Regions from separate parts of the Homo sapiens genome. Here region 2 is linked to region 1. The links come from fine-mapping of genetic effects on gene expression. A gene starts in region 1. The other region holds a variant in brackets. All regions are shown on one strand. Distances are between the middles of the regions.

Region 1 (10,004 bases):
TAGACCATATCCAGTAAGGGATGACCTTGCTTTCTGCTCAAAGGTTTTTTTTTTGTTTTTTTTTTTCTTGAGATGGAGTTTCCGTCTTGTTGCCCAGGCTGGAGTGCAATGGTGCGATCTCGGCTCATGCAACCTCCGCCTCCCCGGTTCAAGCGATTCTCCTGCCTCAGCTTCCCGAGTAGCTGGGATTACAGGAATGCACCACCATGACCAGCTAATTTTGTATTTTTAGTAGAGACGGGGTTTCTCCATGTTGGTCAGGCTGGTCTTGAACTCCCGACCTCAGGTGATCCACCTGCCTCGGCCTCCCAAAGTGCTGGGATTACAGGCGTAAGCCACCGTGCCCAGCCTCTGCTCTAAGTTTTAACATAAATAATTGGGTTACCTGTACATTCAGCCAGAAACTAAGAAGCCTTGAAAGTACTTTCCAGAAACTAGAGAAAATACTCTAGGCCTGAAGCGATCATTAGTTACAATCCAGCGCAGGCTATCCCACCTCTTGGGGACTCCCCCCTAGCACTGGTTACTGAATGAAGGGGGCCCGCCTCCTTTTTCCTTTCTGCTGCCTCAGCCAGCACACAGACCCTTTTTATTTTAAGGATTTTATTTCTAATCACCACGTGGAAATAGGGTTAAACAAAAAGACAAACATACAAAAGTCACAAAGGTTGCAGGGTCTTGAAAAGCTATTACACTTATGGCCCTGGAATAATTCTTGACTCCTTTCTGAGATGGTAACTGGCAGCCCAGTTAAACGCCTGTTTTCTGTTTTTATTTCAGAAAGCAGAAATCACAGAATCTCTTGCTTCTTTGTTCCAGGCTTTCTGGAGACCCAGTCAGATCCTTTCTTCCCTTAAGACAATAGATGTCACTGGAATGCTAAGTGATTGTTTATCTAAAATGCAATTTAAAAAAATTCTTGTCTTTCCCAGACACTTGGCAACATGCTGTGTCCATGGTAGAAGCCCAGCAGATCCTAACTGTTGATGGGTAGATAGAAAACGACCTAAGTGGACTTCACTTTGCCATTCTCCTCAGTACAGACAGAACAACTTGTTGCTTTGTGTTCTGAGGCTGCCCCAAGTAGCCATCCTATGGGTTGGTAGGAAACAACATTCTTTAGCAGCCTCGATGCAACTGGCAGGGTTATGGCCACAGCCTGCTTTCATAAGCAGGAGGCAGAGGCATTAGTTGCATTGTATCTGTTTGTTGGTGTGAATGTGGTCCTGCACTGTGAGTCTTCCAAACAAAACTTGAGGTTGAATCCCTTTTGTTAGGGTAGATAAGGGAGCGTATTGAGCTCCATGGAAAACAGACAGGAGAACTCTGACAGATGGGGAAAGGGTCACCCCCACAGCAGGGGGTCAGCCTGGAAGTGGGTACTATAGCAACACGCTAAGAATTATTCTGTGAATTAAAGGATGGTTGGATTCACTGGATCTGCCCAGGCAGGGAACCTGGCTGGGTCTTTGTCAGTGAACAGATGAAAAGCTTGCTTGCATTTGTGTAATTTGACAGTTTGGTTGTGTTCAGACAGCTCTACGCTATGGAGATGACATTACTCCTGAGTTTCACTGCATGCATTTATGTAAACCAGTGGCATACCAGGAAGGGAGGCAGTGGGAGTGATCCACCCCAGATACAGGCAGTACACAGTAAATTTGTGTGTCTGCAAAGAATTTTAAAATAAAATTGACTAAAAGTCAGTTTGCTTTTTATTATTATGCTCCAACAGTTCCAAACAATGTCGTGGTAAAGTACTCCTCCCTCCTAGGGACAGACTTCACCTATGCTGCCCTGAGGCACGCCCTCCTTGGTGCACCACTGGGAATAAACAAGCACCAGGTGGGAAGATTATAAATCAGCAAGAGAGTAAACAGAAAGCAAGTGACTCCTGAGACAAGATGTTTTCATCACAAACACTATTTGGTAGAGTTTAGAGTCACTGATCTGTGATGGGCATTTCTGTTAGCTTTGTGTTTTGGTTATCGCTGCTTTAAAAACTACCCCAACATTTAGTGCCTTAAAACAATGATCATTTATTTGTTCACAATGCCGTCATTTTGGCAGTGCTCCGTGGGGATGGCTTATCTCTCCTCTGTTCAGTATGGTGTCTGCTGGAGCTGGAACTTCCTAAGGGCTTTTCCACTCATGTGTCTGGTAGCTCAGCTGGGATGAGCTGAAGAGCTAGAGCTGGCCAGGCATCTCTTTCTTTTCACATAGCCTCTCCCTGTGGCTAGCAGGGTGGTCTCTCCTCATGGGTGGCTGGCATTTTCCAGAGTACAAAGCAGAAGCTGTGGGGTTTGCTTAATGCTTTTGCTTAATGACGAGGCTTGGAAGTCCTAGAACATTCTTTCTGCCACATTCTATTGGTCAGAGCAATCACAGGGTCAGCCCAGATTCAAAGGGAAGAAAAATACACCCACTTCATGATGGAGATACTGTTGTGGTCATCTTTGGAAAAATGATCTACTTCATATTGAATTTTTCTATCATAACAAGATGATGATTTCACATGTTGCTTTAACCATGATAAACCTTATCAAACTGGAAAAAGGTAGGCCTTTTTCTTTTTAAAAATTAGCCCCTTGTAATTGTCATCATACCTTGGTTCTGAATGTGGAGATGGCCTCTTCAATGGATTCCTAGGGAGAAACAAGAGATCATGGGGCTCCTACCATAGCATGTGGGAGAAAATATTAGAACAAGCCTGATTTGCAAAAACCTAAAATCCAAAGCATGTTCAAGTCTGTGAGACTATCTAGAACACAGTTTTAGCTCTTTCTCCCAAGATAAGGTCCAATGACCATCATATTTTGATCATTACTCCTTGGTGTCTGACAACTCCCTGCACTGCAATTTACATCCTTTAAAACCAGCATTGTTGGAAATGGACTGACTACATTGTGAGGGTCAGAATGTGAGTGTCTTTCAGATACTGTAATGTGTGATAGGCATCCCTCCAGGGTTGCTATACAGCTCACCCCAGGTCAAAGAACTACATCCCAGTCCAAACAGTATCCACATGAGAGCTGATAGGCATCAACGTTACTCACCTGCCTTTGCCAGACAGTTAATCCACCTATATGTGGGACAGAGCCTTGGTCTGGAAAACACTTTCAAGCCCACTGTCTCACTCTCTTGTCACTATAAATAACCTGGTGAGTTGGCAGTCCCGGCGTGAATGCCCACAATTTGCAGGTATGCAAACAGAACAGAGGGGCTAAGTTCCGTGGGTCACATGAGAGCTAGGCTGCAGCGCCTGGGGAGGCGGCCGTTCCCGCCCGGTGCGCTTGTTGTCCGCTGGAGCAGAGGCCCCCGAGCCTGCTGACCTCTCTGCCTTCAGGCCTGGTCTCGCAGTCCCTTGTGCCTCGCCTATAGGCAGGCGGAATCCAGAGCGTGCAGCAAGCCCGGCCGGCTCTCGGTGGCGGTTTCTACAGCAGGTGGGGCCTGGCTCCGTGATTGAGCGGCCTCTACCCCTCTATCTGGGGCCCAGCAGCGGCCCCCTCCCAGCACCCTGGCTACACGTCTAACCCTAGGCTGACCAGGTGGGGCTCTCGGAGGCGTTAGCCCCAGCCCTCCCAGGAGTCTTAATGTTCCTCTCACAGGAAAAAACGTTCTGCGCCCTTTGTGCCCCAAACCCTCGACCCTTCACTCGGCGAGAGGGGTCGCTGAGGGAGAGATCCACCTCTGCCCTTCCCGTTGCCCGCCGGTTCTTCCTCGCCCGCCTCTTACGCACCCCGCTCCCGCCGGCTCCTGGAAAGCCGGCCCCGGCCCCAGCGCTTCCCTCCCCGGCCTAGCCCCTCTCTCCCACCCTTCCGCTCGCCCAGGCCTTCACGCTCAGCTCCCGGTTTTTGTTGCCCGGGCTTGTTTCGGAGCTGAGCGCGCCGCCGGCCGGGCGCCAGGTCACGTGCGTTGGTGACAACCTCTCGCAGGGCGGCCCCGGGGCCCCCGCACCGCCGATTGGTGGGGCCCGGCCTGGCGCGGCCCGGGGCGGGGCAGCGGGGCCCGACGGCGAGCGGAGCGGCCGATCAGCTGTTGCGAGCGCTGCACAACAACAAAAGGACTTGGACTGGCCGGCCTGGGCGCAGCGACCCGAGGGCTGGAGCCGGCCCCGCGCCTGCCGTCTGGGTACCTGAACGAGGTGCAGCGCAGCCCGGCCCCACCGCAGCTACCTCAGCAGTCCCGCCCCGCCCGCGTCCTTCCCCGCCGAGCCGGCGGCCGCTCCCTTCCCCGCGCAGCCCCGCACGGCCCGGGCCCACGTAAGTGCCGGGGGGGGGCGGGCGGGCGTCCGTCCAGGGCCGCCTCGCTGCCGGTTGGGGCCGCAGCGCTGCCCGCTCCTGAGCCCGGCGGGGCCGGCCGCGCGCCCTGCCTTCGGGGCGCCGGTTGCGCGTTCACCGAGCCCCCTCGCTGCCTCCCCTCGCCGCCGCCGGGCCCGGCCGCCCACCCAGTGGGTCGGTCCTCGGCGGCCCCCGGGGCCCAGGGCGCGGACAGAGGCTGACAGAGGCGGCGGCGGCGCGGACAAGGGCCCGGCCTGGCCCCGGCGCTGGGCGGCGGTTGGGAGTTTGGTCTCTGCCTCCTCCCCCGAGCGTGGCTTGTTTTCTTGGCCGCGGCGGGACCTCCTCCTCTCACCCCTCCTCACTCCCCTCCACTCCTCCTCCTCCGCCTGCTCTCGGCCGTTGGATGGGGCCGCCCCTTCGGGACTCGGCGTCGGGGCTCCCGCGGCCACCCCCGGGACGCATCTCCGAAGACAGCGGCGCTTGGGCTTGTGGCCCGGCGCTCTGTCCCCGCCCTGCGATCCCGTCCCCTGCGCCTGCCCTCCGAGTTCCGGAGGCCCTGCGGCTATGGGGAACCTGCTCCGTGACCCGGCCACCGGCCCCCGCCTGTCCGCGGCCTGTCCCTTGCTTGACCTGGCTTGAACTCAGTCTTCGCTACCTGACTTTGCACCTGTGGAAAGAGCGCTCTCCTTGGCCCTTAACATTTAGATCCTTTGGATCGCTCACGCTTACTGAGCGCTGAGTATGTGCCATATACTATGCTGGGGGCTTTGCTTTATCGCCCCAGTTGATTCTCATAATAACCTTATATGAAATAGGCCCGGCTATCTTACACATAGGAAACCCGAGGCACAGAGAGATTAAGTTGCTCAAGGCCACACAGCCAATTAATAAAAGGAAATGGTGTTTGTATTTCAAAGTGGCAGCTGAATTTTACCTGGAGAGTCTGTTTTGCTTGTATTTTCTGATTATATCTGCTCAGTAGGTTAATTCCAATACAGAGTGGATTAAGGAAGAGCCTCTTTACAACTGTGACTCCCAAGGACTTGGGCATCTATTGCTAAAAAAGCCTTTTCTCAATGCACAATAGTTTTGGGAAAAGGGGGAACAATGTGACCCTTGGGGTCACTGAACAGAAGTCATAATGAGTTCCCCCACGATACTGAAATCACCAGCCTGGTAATTGAAATACATTTTCATTTGCAGATGTGAAAAGCACTGGGAAGCTTTTAAGTCGCAATCAGTGTAATTCTGAACTGGCAGCATAATTTTAAAAGGCCCCTGCCTGGAACCAGGACCTTACTAATTTCTGTGACCAAGGTCTTGTTTTCTCATCCTATCTTTTGTTCTTTCCTGCCATTGCTTCCTCTGATGTCTGCTTTCAAAATTCAAGATTATCAGGCTATGAATTACCACTTACTCTTGTCTTTGTCCACTGTCTTTCAGCCTTAGGGGCAGACAGGGGTGGATCCCTGGGGGAATAACCTCCCTTGCACACTAGTTGAACAGTCTTCACATAAGTGGAACAAGCAAAGACAACTTTTTTGGCTTGGTTTTTTCTGCAGTTCAAAATCCATTTTAAATTACTTGAATCTAGTCTTCATATAAGTGGAACAAGCAGAGATAACTTTCTTGGCTTGGTTTTTCTCCAGTTCAAAACCCATTTTAAATTACTAGAATCTGCACGTTTTTAAAGTAGTGGAAGAGGGTGGGATAAAAAGAAGGATAATTCTGAAGCTGCTTTTCAATGACGGTACGTTTAGCCACCTGATTTCCTGAAACTGTGAAGGAGCCACAACTGTACACAGATTTAGAAGTTAGATCATCAAACTTGCGGGTTTTTTTTTTTTTTTTAATATTTTTTGGAGCCGCCTACTGGCAGCTGAAACTAACTGAAAAGGGCTGTTTTCTGAAGTTCGTAGACCCATAGTTGAGACTGGGAGCCTAAAAGAGCATGTATAGGGAAAACAAGGAATTGGAATCAGATGGATTTTTGCCCTAATGCTGACTCCACCCCAACCAACTCTGTCACTTTTGAACAAGTTAGTTAATTCCTCAGCCTCGGTTTCCTCATCAGTAAAATGGGACAAATAAGTACTTCAAGGCCCCGTTACATACAATAAGCATTCTGTAAATTGTAGCTCTAATTATTAAGTAGACATTTTATGGATAAAGAAACTCAAATGCAGCGATGCTAAATGACTTGTTGACAGTCTCACAACTGGCTTTGAATGAACCGAGGTCTGCTATTCTAAGTAGTATACACTTAATCCTTACACTGGCACTGTGAAGTAGGTATTATAACTATCATTCCCATGTTAAGGATGAGAAAACAGAGACACCAAGATGTTAGTAAATATCCTGAATTCACATAGGTTGCAAGTAGCAGAGCCAAGATTTCAAACTCCAGGGCCTGTCTTTTTTTTTTTTTTTTTTTTTTTTGAGACAGGGTCTTACTCTGTTGACCAGGCTGGAGTGTAGTGGTGGGATCACAACTCACTGCAGCTTCAAACTCATGGGCTCAAGCGATCCTCCTACCTCAGCCTCCCTGGTAGCTGGGACTACATGCACATACCACCACACCCAGCTAATTTATTTTTTGTAGAGATGGGGTCTTGCTTTGTTGCCCAGGCTGGTCTTGAACTCCTGGCTTAAAGTGATCCTCCTGCCTTGGCATCCCAAAGCACTGGGATTATAGACATGAGCCACTGCGCCCAGCCTCAGAGCCAGTCTTTAAGTACCACAATATACTGCCTCTTGGTGGGCTGTCTTAAAAGTGACAAAATAAATTATGCTAACAAGATCTTCCAAATTAGCAGTTCCTTTTCTAAGTGGTCAAACTAGAATGCTCTTCCCCGTGAGTATTAGACTCAGTCAGCCACCTTTCTCTGCCTACAAAGCATCTCTACTCATGTAATAATATGAAAACCATTGATGATAAAATGTTAAGTAACAGTGAGATACAAAACAGTGCATTCACAAGACTATAACTATGATAAAAAGAAGCCTTATGTGTAGAAGAAAAAAAAAAACAGAAGAAAAGGCACCAATGTGTTAAGTGGTGGGAACAAGGCAATGGAATAATACTTATTTTTCTTATTTTCTAGACTTTTTATAATGTGGTTTTGTTCAGTTTATAATTGAAAAGACATAATTTATTTTTTAAAGGGAGGGATGGAGGTCTTTTGAGCCAAGCAGAACAAGGACAAAGCTGCCTTCTTGAAATGCTAGGGCCCAGACACTTTGTTTCTTTTCTGTATTGAGGGGTTCTTTTCTCTTGTCGGGGAAACTGCTGGACTGACGCTGGTTAAAGCTGTTCAAAGAACAACAGCGCTACTTCACCTAACCTTCTTTGCTTCACCTCTTTGCTGAATTCCAGAACTGTATTTGTAAGTTTGTCCTCTTAGGACACATGCTTTCTCTGGAATTTTTATTTTCGTTCTATGATTGCCCTAGCATTGTGAATATTAGTGGTGATCTGGGGAGGAGAGGAGTCTAAAGCTCTACTTTTCCATTTACCTCCATGTAGAACCAGCCCAGTTGAGAGCCTCCATCCCTGGGCAGGAGCCAAGGTCAACAGTAGCAGTGACTGGGCAGGGACAGTCTCTGGGTCATCAGTAGGAGGGTAGGCCTTTAAGACTTTTTCTAGAACAGTCCTGTTCAACAGAAATAGATAATGTGAGCCACATGTATGTTTGAATTTTCTAGTAGCCATATTTAAAAAGGAAAAAGAAACTGGTGAAGTTAATTTTATTAATGTATTTAATATACTAAAATTATTTTTTCAACATGTAATCAATATAAAAACTGTTTTGCATTTTGGGGGGTACTAAGTCTTTGAAATACACTCTAGTGTGTACTTTACATATACAGCACATCTCAATTCAGATACAAAGTTTTCATTTGAAGTACTTGATCTATATTTAGACTTCGTAAAATTTATAGGTGAAAAAGTAGATTCATACCCTAACTGTTCCAAACATACTTGAAAGTTTTCAAAAAACTAAATTATCAGCTTTTAAGTTTAACTGGATTAAACTTAGTAAATGGATTAAATAGTAAAATGAAAAATGCAGTTTCTCGATGATACTAGTCACATTTCAAGTGTTCATGTGCACAGTGTGCCTGGTGGCTACCTCAGTGGACAGTTTTAGCAATGGGGGGAGGGTCTCTCCAATAGCTCCTTGCCTTTTGTGACACCTGCAGAAAGCAGGGCCAAAGGAATTTGGCTTTGCTAGTTAAACCAGCCTCACTTTTTTGTGCTAGAAGTTTGTGGGGAAAGAGAGTGACGAGGTGATTCAGCGCAGTCTCCCCATTTTCCCAACAGTGAGACTGAAGCTCAGAAGGGCCAATTTAGCTCCAGCCACCTGTAGTAGAGCCACAGCCAGAACTGCTGCTGTGGATGGCCAGGCCCCTTTAACCCTCCCCAGGAACTCCATTCTGTGTTCTTCCCACGGGTGTCAGCAGATGTGCCATGTAAACACCAGCAGTGGCTTGAGTGAGATGAAGGATGAGCTCCTCCCTCACTTGGCTGGGCTTCTGAGCACTCTGTCGCCCAAGGTTGGTTGTCCTTGCAGAGATATGGGACATCTGGAGGCAGCCTCTGACTTTGGGAAACCAAAAGAGCACTGACTTGTACTGCTCCCTAGAAAGCTCCTCCAGAGAAGCCTTTCCTGTATCTTACTTGCTACTTGCATATATTCCAGGCAGAAGCTGCCTTCCTGGGTTTGGACCTGTGGCCAGAGGGGGCAATTTGCATGTGGGAACCCAGCAGCTGTCACAACTGCAGTGGCCCCAGCAATGTTTTTTGGCCTTACAGCTGCCAGTTATCTGACCTGGGCCCCAGTGCCTTACTCTCATGCAGCATCACAGGTTGGGGACAAGGCATTCGTTCAGGACAAGCAAAGGTTCCCCTGTGTGGTTCTCCCCTCCCAGTGGCTTTAGCTGATTCAGGGCTAGAGTCCAGCACCATGCTCTGCAGAATTGGGCTTATTCTCTCAACTGGTTCAGCAGACACAGAATTGTACGTGGGGCCAATATCTGCCTCCACAATTTAAAATAAATGGAGGAAGGATTTTGAAAATATGTTTTTCCCTCTAAGCATGTATCCTCAAAAATCTTTATTTACATCAGACCTTATGATAACTTATTTTGGAATATAACTATCACACCACAGCAGGTCAAACAAACTACACTTTTCTTCTGATTGTTCTTACATAGAGCATAAAGCTGACTTTGAATTCTGCTACAGCTCCAGCCTTCATGATTTGGCCGTGCTGCTTTCCAGAAGGTTTCAGGAAGACTGGTTATGCAAGTGACACTTCCTGTTTACCTATTTTTAATAATTAGTGGCTGAAGAAGATGAATTGTGACCACAAAGTGTTCTAATGTTATTTATTTGAAATGTTTAACTTGTGTAGTAGTGTGCCAAACAACTGTAGCAGTTCAGTTTACACACAAGGAACTGAACCAGGAATCTCATTAGCTACAGATCCCAACTACTTTTACAGCTAAAGATTATTTTGAAAGTGAACTGTCAGGAGCCTGAAGTTGTAGATTCAAGGCTGATGCTTGTGATAAAAAGAGGTGGTGATTAGTGAGGTGCATTTCTTCAGCCCTGGATGATCTCATACATATATATAACTTTTTTTTGAGACAAGGTCTCGCTGTGTCACTCACACTGGAGTACAGTGGCACAATCATAGCTTACTGCATCCTTGAACCTGG
Region 2 (10,004 bases), 250 kb before region 1:
TTGTCCCCTCACTCTGCATTCCAACAACAGTGAGCTTCCATAAGACGCCACCTCTCTGAGTCTTTGTGCATGCTGTTTCCACTGCCTGGTATGCCCTGCAAACTTCTATTCTTCCTTCAACACCTGGCTTAGTCATCACCTCCTCCAGAAAATCCTCCCAGATTCCCCCACTTCTAGAGTGAACCAGTGACTCCTCTGTGCAACAGCTTTCTTCATTCATTCAATAAACATTTCCCGAGTACTTACCATGTGCCCGGCACTGGGTTACAACAAGGAACAAGACTGACACGGTTCCTGCCCTGCAGGAGGGAGAGGAAAAGGAAACACAGGTTTCTAAGATTGTCGAACAACAGCAATTGGCATAATGAAGGGAAGGGCCTCGGGGAAGACTTTCAGGAGCACCTGAAGTATAACTAGGAGTTTATCAGAGGAAGGGGAGAAAGGGGTTCAGGCAGAGGGAACAGCATGTGGCAAGGCCTTGAAGTGGGAAGGAACGTGGTACATCTGGGAAATGTCAAGATGACAAGTCTGAACCTTGTACACACCTAACTTGTTGGGCTCCTCGTACCGGGTTCACCTGCCCATCTGCCCTACGAGGAGGAACCCCTAGAGAGTGGGCTTCACATCTGACTCACCTCTGCCTCTTACCAGCCACAGGACAGTGCCCAGGGAGAGCTCAGGACATTTCTGATGAAGTGAAAATGGACCTAACAAAAGTATCACTTGTTGTTATGCTCAGGGTTGGGGTCCAGTCCCAGCTGAGGTCCGAAAAGAGGGGATGGATGAGCAGATAGCTGAAAGAACACTCGGGGTGCTGTAGGCAGGTGAAATGTAATTTTATTCAGCAGCTCTCTCATCAGCAGCTTACACTAGCTCGTTTACACTGTTCACCTTTATTTTGGCTGCCTGCTCCAGCTCGGCGGCTCCTCTCAGCAGCCAGCTCCCACACACACCTGCGTGGCCAGCTCTCCCTTGCCTTCAGGGTCAGCAGCTGAACTCTTTCTCTCTCTGGGCATGAGTAGGCTGAGCTGTGTCCTGGCTCCCCCTGTCCATCTGCAAAGACCGACAGCTCTGGCTCTCTCTCTCTTTCTCTGGGTGCAAGTGCACCTGTACAGAGTCAGCAGGGCAATTATAGCTTTTACAGACAATAGTGGCATCGGGCCACATGGCTACATGGCTGTGATAACAAGTGGAGTTATATGCCTGCACTCTAAACTCACTGAGTCATGCAGGCCTGGATATCCACCTCGGCCTGTTCTTGACCAAAGCACATCCATATACCTTACACTTGTAAACTGGGAGGCTCTCTGTCCAGGCAAGCTTATCCTCAGGGAAGGGGTTGGGATGGAACTCCCTTTCCCCACCTCGTGTTCATGCCCAGACTCCCCAGCAGGCATCTGGCCTCATGGGCAGCAGGAGTGACACTGCCACCACTGACCCCTCAAGGACAGTGCTATGTTGGTGGCCCTCCCCACCGCCCCAAATTCATATGTTGAATCCCTAATCCCCACTGCAAAGGTATTAGGAGGTGTGGCCTTTGGGAGGTGATTAGGTCATGAGGGTGGAGACTTCACAAATGGGATTAGTGCCCTTATAAGAAAAGACATAAGAGAGGTGACCTCTCTGTCCCCATGTGAATAGACAGTGAGCAGTCGGCTGTCTGCAAGCTGAGAAGACAGCCTTCCCCAGAACTCAACCATGCTGGCACCCTGATCTTGGAATCCCATGCTCCAGAATTGTGAGAAGTGAACGTCTATTGTTTAAGCCACCCAGTCTATGGTATGGTGTTATAGCGTGAATTAGACAGACAGCCACCTGCTGATACATCCCTTCAGGCTCCTCTGCCCAGCAAAAGGACATGCAGATCCACCCCATGAGAGAGCTGCAGATGGGAGGATGCTGGATCTTTCTGGACCCCCCTACCCCACTCCACCCCTGCACCCCTTCCTCAGCCCCACCACCTGGCCCCTGCCCACTCGAGTGTGCCAAAGACGGCCTGTCCTCTCCTCTCTGAAAATGCGAGGTCCAGGCTGCTCTTTCACATATTTGACACAGAGCCATGTGCCACCAAACCAGCTCATCCCGGCACTTTAAAGGAGGGCCACAGATACAGGCAGAATAAAGCCTGGGCTTCAGGATCCAGGCTGGGTTTTTGGTTGAGCCAATCCCAGCACCACAGAGGCCCGGAGTGCCACCACTGGAAAGAGGCTTGTTGATCACCCCGTTTTCCCCCACTTCAGACCAGCAGATGGAGGAGGCCCAGAGATGCCTTCTGATCTGTGAAAACTCAGCGATCCAAAGCAGAAGTTCACCCAAGGCCACCTGAATCGTCACGCAGGACTCTGCCCAATATTCCACAATAGCTCTTGGTGCCCACAGGTGATGAATCAGATAAAAGGGAGGCAAAATAGACAAAGATTCTGCCCAGGGCCCCTAGGAGGCAGAGGTGAGACTACCAGGGAGGGCAGCCCATCCAGGCTGGAGACAGTTAAGCCCTGCAGGAAGGAAAATGCAGACTCTGTACCTACCCAACCCCCACACCAGCTGGGTATTAACAGGACTTGAGCCGAGAGGTCCTGGAATTATACTCTGCTGTACTCCCGCCTGTACCTGGGCACTCTTTACCTGGGTGGTCTAGGATACCCGATCAAAGCAATGATGACATCAGGGCAACTTACGAGAATATCTGAAGGATATCCCCTCTTATCCACTTTTTGAGGTTCCAGTTACCTGTGGTCAGCTGTAGTTTGAAAATATTAAATGGAACATTCCAGAAAGAAATAACTTATAAGTTTTAAATTTTGCACCATTCTGAGTACTGTGATGAAATCTCGTGCTGTCCCACTGCGTCTTGCCCAGGATGTGAATGGTCCCTTTGCCCAGCATCTCCACACCATAGATTCTACCTGCCTGTGAGGCACTTAGTAGCCAGCATCACTGTCAAATCAAAAAAACATAGTAGGCCGGGTGCAGTGGCTCACGCCCGTAATCCCAATACTTTGGAAGGCCAAGGTGGGAGGATCTCGAGACCAGCCTGGGCAACACAGTGAGGCCCTATCTCTATTAAAAAAAAGAAAAGAAAAGAAAAAACATGGTACAGTATATATAGGGTTCAGTACTCTTGGAAGTTTCAGGCATCTGCTAGGGGTCTTGGAACCTATCCTGCATGGATAAGAGGGGCCTACAGTATACAGGTCCCTAGAACAATAAGCCAAAAAGGTATTTGGAACCACTGCGGGCAGGGGAGTTCCATTAAGAGGGTGATGTGGAGTGGGCGTGTGTATAGACAAGCCTACTATATGCAGACACCCAGCCCCTTTCCATTTTCTTTGATCTTTCTTTTTCACGATCTGCTTGGAGACAGAAGACAGGTGCAGCAGCTTCAGGTCCCGGGGAATTTAAAAAGCAAAATTTACCACGTTTTGTAGGCTGCCAGCCTGAGGCTCCTTCTTACCTGACCTTTCCTTATGTGGCATCTGACCTTTTAAAATGATCTTCCCTTATCTCCCAGCAAGTTGTTCTGCTTCTTCCACTAACCCCTGCCCTCCCCATGGGAGAGTGACTAATCAGCACTGTTCAGGAGGAGATGGGGTGCCCATCAGAATGCCCAGGGGGCCCTCGAACCCGGGCCCTAGTGAGGATGGGCTCCCTGCTCCTCCATGTGCCACTACAACATGAGAGTCAAGTCTGGGATCTGCTTTGGCGACGCGAGTGGAGGTCTGCTGAGGAATGGGCTCTAAGGGCAAAAGGAAGTGGTTCTTAGACTTTCCATAGTAATGGAGGCTCCCACCCATGGGCATGACAGCTTTCCCTATGAACTGGAGTCCTCGTCGACACCTCTCCCTGAATTAGAAGTGTTTAGGACCACGTGTCTTCTCCCCAACCAGGCTCCTCAGTGAGGGAGTGACCAGCTCCCTTCAGGTTTCCATCCCCTTCGTGAGTGTGGCAGATAGCCACCTCCTGATCCCCACTCCCTGTGGCTGCCACCGATACAGAAAAGAGGGAGGGGCACTTTGCTACCGGATCCAGGATTCTGAAATGAGGAGATGATCCTGGATTATCCAGGTGGCCCTAATAAGGCGGAGGCACACACAGGAGAGGAGAAGGTGATGTGACCACGGGGGCAGAGACTGCGACCACAGCCAAGAAAC[G/A]CTGCAGCCGTCAGAGGCTGGAAGACATGGATTCTCCCCTAGAGCCTCCAGAGGGAGCGCAGCCTGCCAGCACCTTGATTTCAGCCAGTGACACTGATTGTGGACTTCCAGCCTTCGGAACTGTAAGAGAAGAAATGCCTGCTGTTATAAGCCACCAGGTTTACAGTAATATGTTACAGGAGCCACAGGAAACTAAGTCAGTGAGTAGCCTCATAAGATTCTTTTCTATTTATTCATTCAACAAACATTTAGCAAGTGCTGTACATGCCAGGCACTGTCATAGGCGGCAAGATGCAGCTGTGAACAGGACAGGGCAGGCCCTGCTCCATGGAGCTGCAGCCCAGTCAGATAACTGCCTGAAAGAGTGGTGCTTCCAATAATTATGGACGAGCATCACAGGTAAGCAGGAAGCAAAAATGGCAGCTAAAAAAACCACACAGACCTCCATAAAATAGTGCCAATTCCTGTACAAATTATATACAAATGCACTTGTGAAGACAGATGTCACCTTCAGAGAAAACACAAGGCTATCTAGATCCCAGCTGCACCCCAGAAAGCCTGAGGGAACAGTACAGGTCAGAGGGAGTGGGCAGAGTCCCAGACACACTGCCTTTCTTCCCCTTCAGGGGGTTCAGCCTCCTGCAGAGGAACCAGGTACAGCCATTGCCATTGCAGCTGCAGCCCCACAGAAATGGCCTAACCCCCCAGGGAAGGCCCCTAAAGGAAAGCGCCCTGAAAGAGTGGCTTTCCAATGTTTACACAGAGATTGCATGGAATTTACACCAAACTTCAGGGTGAGGTCATGACCCTGGGTGAAGGCTTGCTTCAGATGAATCAAAACATGTTGGACCTCAGAGACTCCAGCAAACAGCCTGCTTTCCCACAAGTAAGTTGGTCACATCAGGTGGGCAGTGACCTCATGTAATCGCCCAGTGTGGTGTACTCCACAACAGGTCATCTCCAAAGCTGCTTAAGCTCCCTGCACAACCCTGGCATTACCAGATACCTGATTCTGCAAAATATCTGCTGATCTTCTTGACCACAGGACTCGCTCTGTCTGAACAACCTGGGAGGAGGAGTCAGGGTGTGGCAGGGTGAGGGAAGTAGCCAGGACCCTCCACATGCTGCCCCTGCTCCCTCATCCCATGACCCTGGTGAGCCCCAACCTCCAGGCCAGGCTTAACAACACCCCTTCTTTCCACCTCTTTTGAGGATTAAATGAGACAACAGATGGAAATACACTGAAAAGTGTTAGGTGCTAAACCCAGGCCAAGTGATATTTTTAACCTGGAACTACTCAGTTGCCTCTGAAAGCAATGAACTCTATGCTGTCTTTGCAGGTACAAAAAGAAATCTTCCACTAAATTGTGTTTCAGTGGCTACAACTATGTGTTAGCTAATTCTTCCACCCTCTCACCTACCTCCAGCTGCTCCAAGTGTGCAGCTCTGTGGCAGTTTCAAGAGTAGGGTACTGTGTAGTAAAGAATTGGCCTTATCCAGAGATGTCCAGAGGTTCCTGGGAGGTACCTCTAAGCCCTGGGGATGTCCTGCCTGATAAGAGTGTCTTTGTTTGCCTGGGCAGTCTTGAACCACATTGAATAGCCTAACAGCGTGATTTATGTTGGGGGCTTTGAGCCACATAGTATCAGCTCGACCTCCAGAAGGGCTGGAGATTAAAGGTCAGTCACACAAGTAGTCCACCATGTCTACCTGTCTGAGACCCAGTAAAAACTCTGTACACAAAGGCTCGGGTGAGGCTCCTTGGGTGGCAGTACTCCACATGTACTGTCACATATCCTGGCCAGGAAAAGTTGGTGCTGCCCATGAGTCTACTGGGAGAGGACAACTAGAAGCTTCCCTTTCGGGACTTTCTGCTCCATGCATTTCTTCCTTTGGCCCATTCCTTCCACTGAAACTATAAGTGTAACAGCTTTCAGTTGGTAAGTCCTCCTGCTGATTTATCAGATCTGAGGGTGGCCAGACCTGATCCCCTCCCACTCCCACCACCCCTCAACAGATAATTGGCATCAGAAGTGAGGTGATCCTGGGGACAGCCTTGCACTCTGTAACTTCTTAACTCTTTTTGTGCCGCGGATGCCTTTGGCAGTCTGGTGAAGCTGTGGACTTTTCTGAAGATGATTATTAAATGCACAAAATAAAATATATAGTATTCAAAAAAACCAGTTATATTGAAATGTAAGTATCAAAATATGTGCTTCTTTATTAAGATATTAAATAATGAGTTATAGTAGAGATTTACTATCTACCATAATTTTGAAGTAGCAACAAACACCCAATATTTCAAGATATCTGCAACAACTATAAAGAGATGCAGATTTAAACCAGGCATGGTGGCTCACACCTGTAATACCGGCACTTTGGGAGGCCAAGGCAGGGAAATCACTTGAGGTCAGGAGTTCGAGACCAGCCTGGCCAACATGGTAGAACCCAGTCTCTACTAAAAACACAAAAATTAGTAGGGCATGGTCATGGGCACCTGTAAATCCAAATACTCAGGAGGCTGAGGCAGGAGAATCGCTTGAACCCAGGAGGCAGAAGTTACAGTAAGCCAAGATGGTGCCACTGCACCACTCCAGCCTGGGTGACAGAGTGAAACTCTGTCTCAAAAAAAAAAAAAGAAAAAAAGATGTAGATGTATATTAGTGTCAACATCACAGGTGATGTATTTTGTTTCCTACATTCACAATTGAAATTAATTCTAAATTTCAGTTAGAGGTTATTGGAAATAAAGGTCTAATTTTTTTTCTCATCCAAGGTCACAAACCCCATAAATTCTATCCCCAGATCACCAACAGGTCCATGGGCACCAGATTAAGAAGCCTAGTCTAGGACTTGGGTGATTATCTCACCCTTCCTAGCAGCTTAAGTAGAGCTGTCACTGTCAATGTTGTTTTTAATGATAATAATCGTAGCTAATCCTCATTGAGCATTTGCTCTATGCCCAGCACAATGAATGTGAAAGTGCCATACACATATGAACCATTATTTTTATGTCATATCACTTAACGAGCTTTCTGATTGAGTTAGGAAAACAAGAGCTGTCGCTTTTGGCATGCTTAATATGGGCGAGGCACATACCAAGCACTTACAATGCATTCTTTCATTAGGCCTCACGGCAACCTGATGAGGTGGAACTGTTATTCCTCCCATTTTATAGACAAGGAAAGTGAGGCTTTGAGAGTTTAAACAACTTACCCAAATGATAAGGATAGTAATTGGTAAAGCCAGATATTCAAATCAGGTGTCAGACTCAAGACAGAGCACAGCTCACAAAAGTTAGCAGAATGGCACTCAGCAAACCCGGATGGCCATGGCGGTGCCACTGGATGACCTGACCACAGTGGTCCTGTGTCCAGACAGAAAAGACTGACCAATGAATGGAAATAGAGATAACTCAGCACAAGGTCCTGAACTGCATGGATTAATAAGTCAATGATTACTGAGGCTGTGGGGAAGTTTCTGTGCTAATCATTAGTGTTCCGATTCCAGAACCATGGGCGTCATGAAGATTAACCTGCTCAGCGAAGAGTTTCCTGATTTCTCTAAGGGTGCCCTTGATTGGCACACAAAGGATCCTGTGGGTGCTTCACGGCCTAGCAGCATCCTCAGTATCAGGCCATGTGGTCTTTGCTTTCTCCAGAATCATCATCATCATCATCATCATCATCATCATCATCTGAGAAGGTTCTTACAGAGCAGCTCTTGGCATCCAAGCCCATCCACGGACCAGGATGCCCTACAGAGGCAAAGGCAGATGGGGAGGGGAGGGCTGAGACAGACACAGGGAAAAACAAACCTTACAACAAGACAAGTTATAATACAGGAATGGAAATGATGTGGCACCAATGCCACCACTCCCCACTACCATATCCAGTAGCAGAGATGCTACTCATAGTACTACTCATAGGACACTATATAATTTCCCCTTAAATGAGGTTGATGCAGCCTCAGAATCCTTCTCAACACAGCTCTCCAGGTAGCTACAACCAATTGGTTGAACTTGACATACAGGTTGCAACCTATTTTTCATCAGATCCATGATACCAGAAGGAAAGGAGAAAAGTTATACTCTTGAAACAATGACATAAAACAAGAGTAGCTAAAACTTATTGAGCATTTATTCATGCCAATTCCTGTTCTAAGCACTTTACATGTATTACTCACATTTTCTTCTCACTACAACAATCTTACGATGTGAATACTATTATTAGCCCCATTTTCCATAAGAGAAACCTGAGGCACGAATCGGTTGTTCCATATGACTTGTTCCATGTCACCCAGTGAGAAGGGAGTAAAGTTAGGTTTCGAATCCAGGTGGTCTGGCTCTAAAACTTGCATATTTAATTAGCCACTATGCTGTACTCATCCTGTCCAGTGCTGGGGGTATTTTTAGCTATTGACCATAGCAAAAGACAAAGATGAAATGGCTTTATAGTTTTGCATGTTGATATAAGCAAAAGTGACATAACATTCTCAAAGACTGTTCTCTAAAGTTTTCAGAGAGATGCCTTTGTCAATCAATGCACTTTGCTCTGGTCCTGCTTCTCAATGCGGCCGGTCTCTTCACTTTTTACTTCCCCAATGCAGCTCATCTGTAGGCCCAGTGCTGGCCATACCAGAGCCCAGCACGCAGCATCTACATTGAAGACTCCTGGCTGAGGCAGGGCCTCCCCGCTCTCCCTCCTCACCTTGTCAGGTCCTCCAGTGCCTGTGTATTTTTCTGACCCAACTGCTTGCCTAATTACAGATCCCTGGCACAGTCTAAACTGGCCCGGCTAGACCTGGAAGTCCCCGGAATCCAGGCATTCTGTTAACATCAGGTGTAGAGGAGAACAGATGCAGAGAAAGCCAGCTCCACCCCGCCCATGTTGCTGATGGCAACGAGTCAGATCTCCAAGAAAACAAGTTCAGTGGCAGAATCCAAGCGCTTAACTCGGCCACCATATTACATCTTTTATAGACGGAACCGAGGGGAGCTTTAGGAGAGGGATACAACCCGTCTCAGCAACAGAAAAAACCCATACCTGCCCTTGTAGGTAGCTGCTCTTGGCAGCAGAAACAGGTGTATCCTTTGAGATGGCCCCAAGGTCACCTCCAATCCCCCCTCAAGGTTCCAAGCTCAGTGACTGCTGGCCAAGGCAGCCAGCAGGTGGCCGTGGCAGAGCGGGTAAGGTGCTGTCCACTTTGCCTCCGTTTCCACCCAGACCAAGAGCACTGCCTCTTCTATGGGTGCAGGGGCAGAAATAAGAACTAGACCAGCAGCTCTGCATGATTAGTACTGGCAGTTCTAGTTATGACCCAGATTGGCATGGGGCCCACTGGGCTCCCACACCCAAATCCTGACAGGGAGCGAAGTAGAAGCAGAGTCCGGGCGGGTTGGAGGATCTGGCTGGTTCAGTCCATCAAAACCAAGTCAGCATCAGCCACCATTTGGAATTAACTCGACTTCCTCTCTTCCTACCACCCATGCAAAAGGCAAATTTTCAGAAACCCTATTTAAAGCTCTCCAAGCACTTTCAGTATATTTTGTAGAGTGTTTGGCAGTATATAATATTATTCCTTTTGCATGTAGTATTTTATTTATTCTTATATGAAGTCTGAGAGCATGAGGCCAGATCTCTATGAGGAAGATAGAGTGGAAAAGCCACCAGCACACAGCAAGGAAGATGGCAGAAAAAAAAATCCTAACCCAGATCTGACTGAGTGAGAAGGCCTGGCTCTTCCCACTACACCAAGCCAACTCCCCGCTGTGCTAATACCTCACAGGTGGTTCATTCATCCCGTAGAAGTTCCTGGGTGTACCAAGAAGCAGACGCAGAATTAGACATAGAT

Which allele goes with the higher level. Positions count from the first base shown, and alleles are read on the strand shown. Sizes are in standard deviations (SD) of each study's normalised expression.
For the expression in spleen of the gene that starts at base 4,038 in region 1, allele A in region 2 goes with a lower level than allele G (large effect, 0.78 SD a copy in GTEx).

What was found.
Region 2: its variant is fine-mapped to the expression of TP53INP1 in spleen (GTEx, PIP 0.92).

What each region holds. Positions count from the first base shown.
Region 1 is chr8:94,943,412-94,953,415 of GRCh38, reverse strand. It overlaps TP53INP1 (tumor protein p53 inducible nuclear protein 1), which reads left to right and starts at 4,038. Exons shown (of 4, transcript NM_033285.4): 1 at 4,038-4,262. It also overlaps a transcript of NDUFAF6 not described here. RefSeq lists enhancers at 3,183-3,232, 3,403-3,572, 3,439-4,068, 4,069-4,697 and silencers at 3,693-3,802, 3,883-4,262, 4,483-4,622.
Region 2 is chr8:95,195,555-95,205,558 of GRCh38, reverse strand. No RefSeq gene overlaps it. Among named protein-coding and RNA genes, the nearest start is that of LINC01298, 16 kb to the left of the region's middle. The variant G/A (reference allele first, on the strand shown) is at 4,152.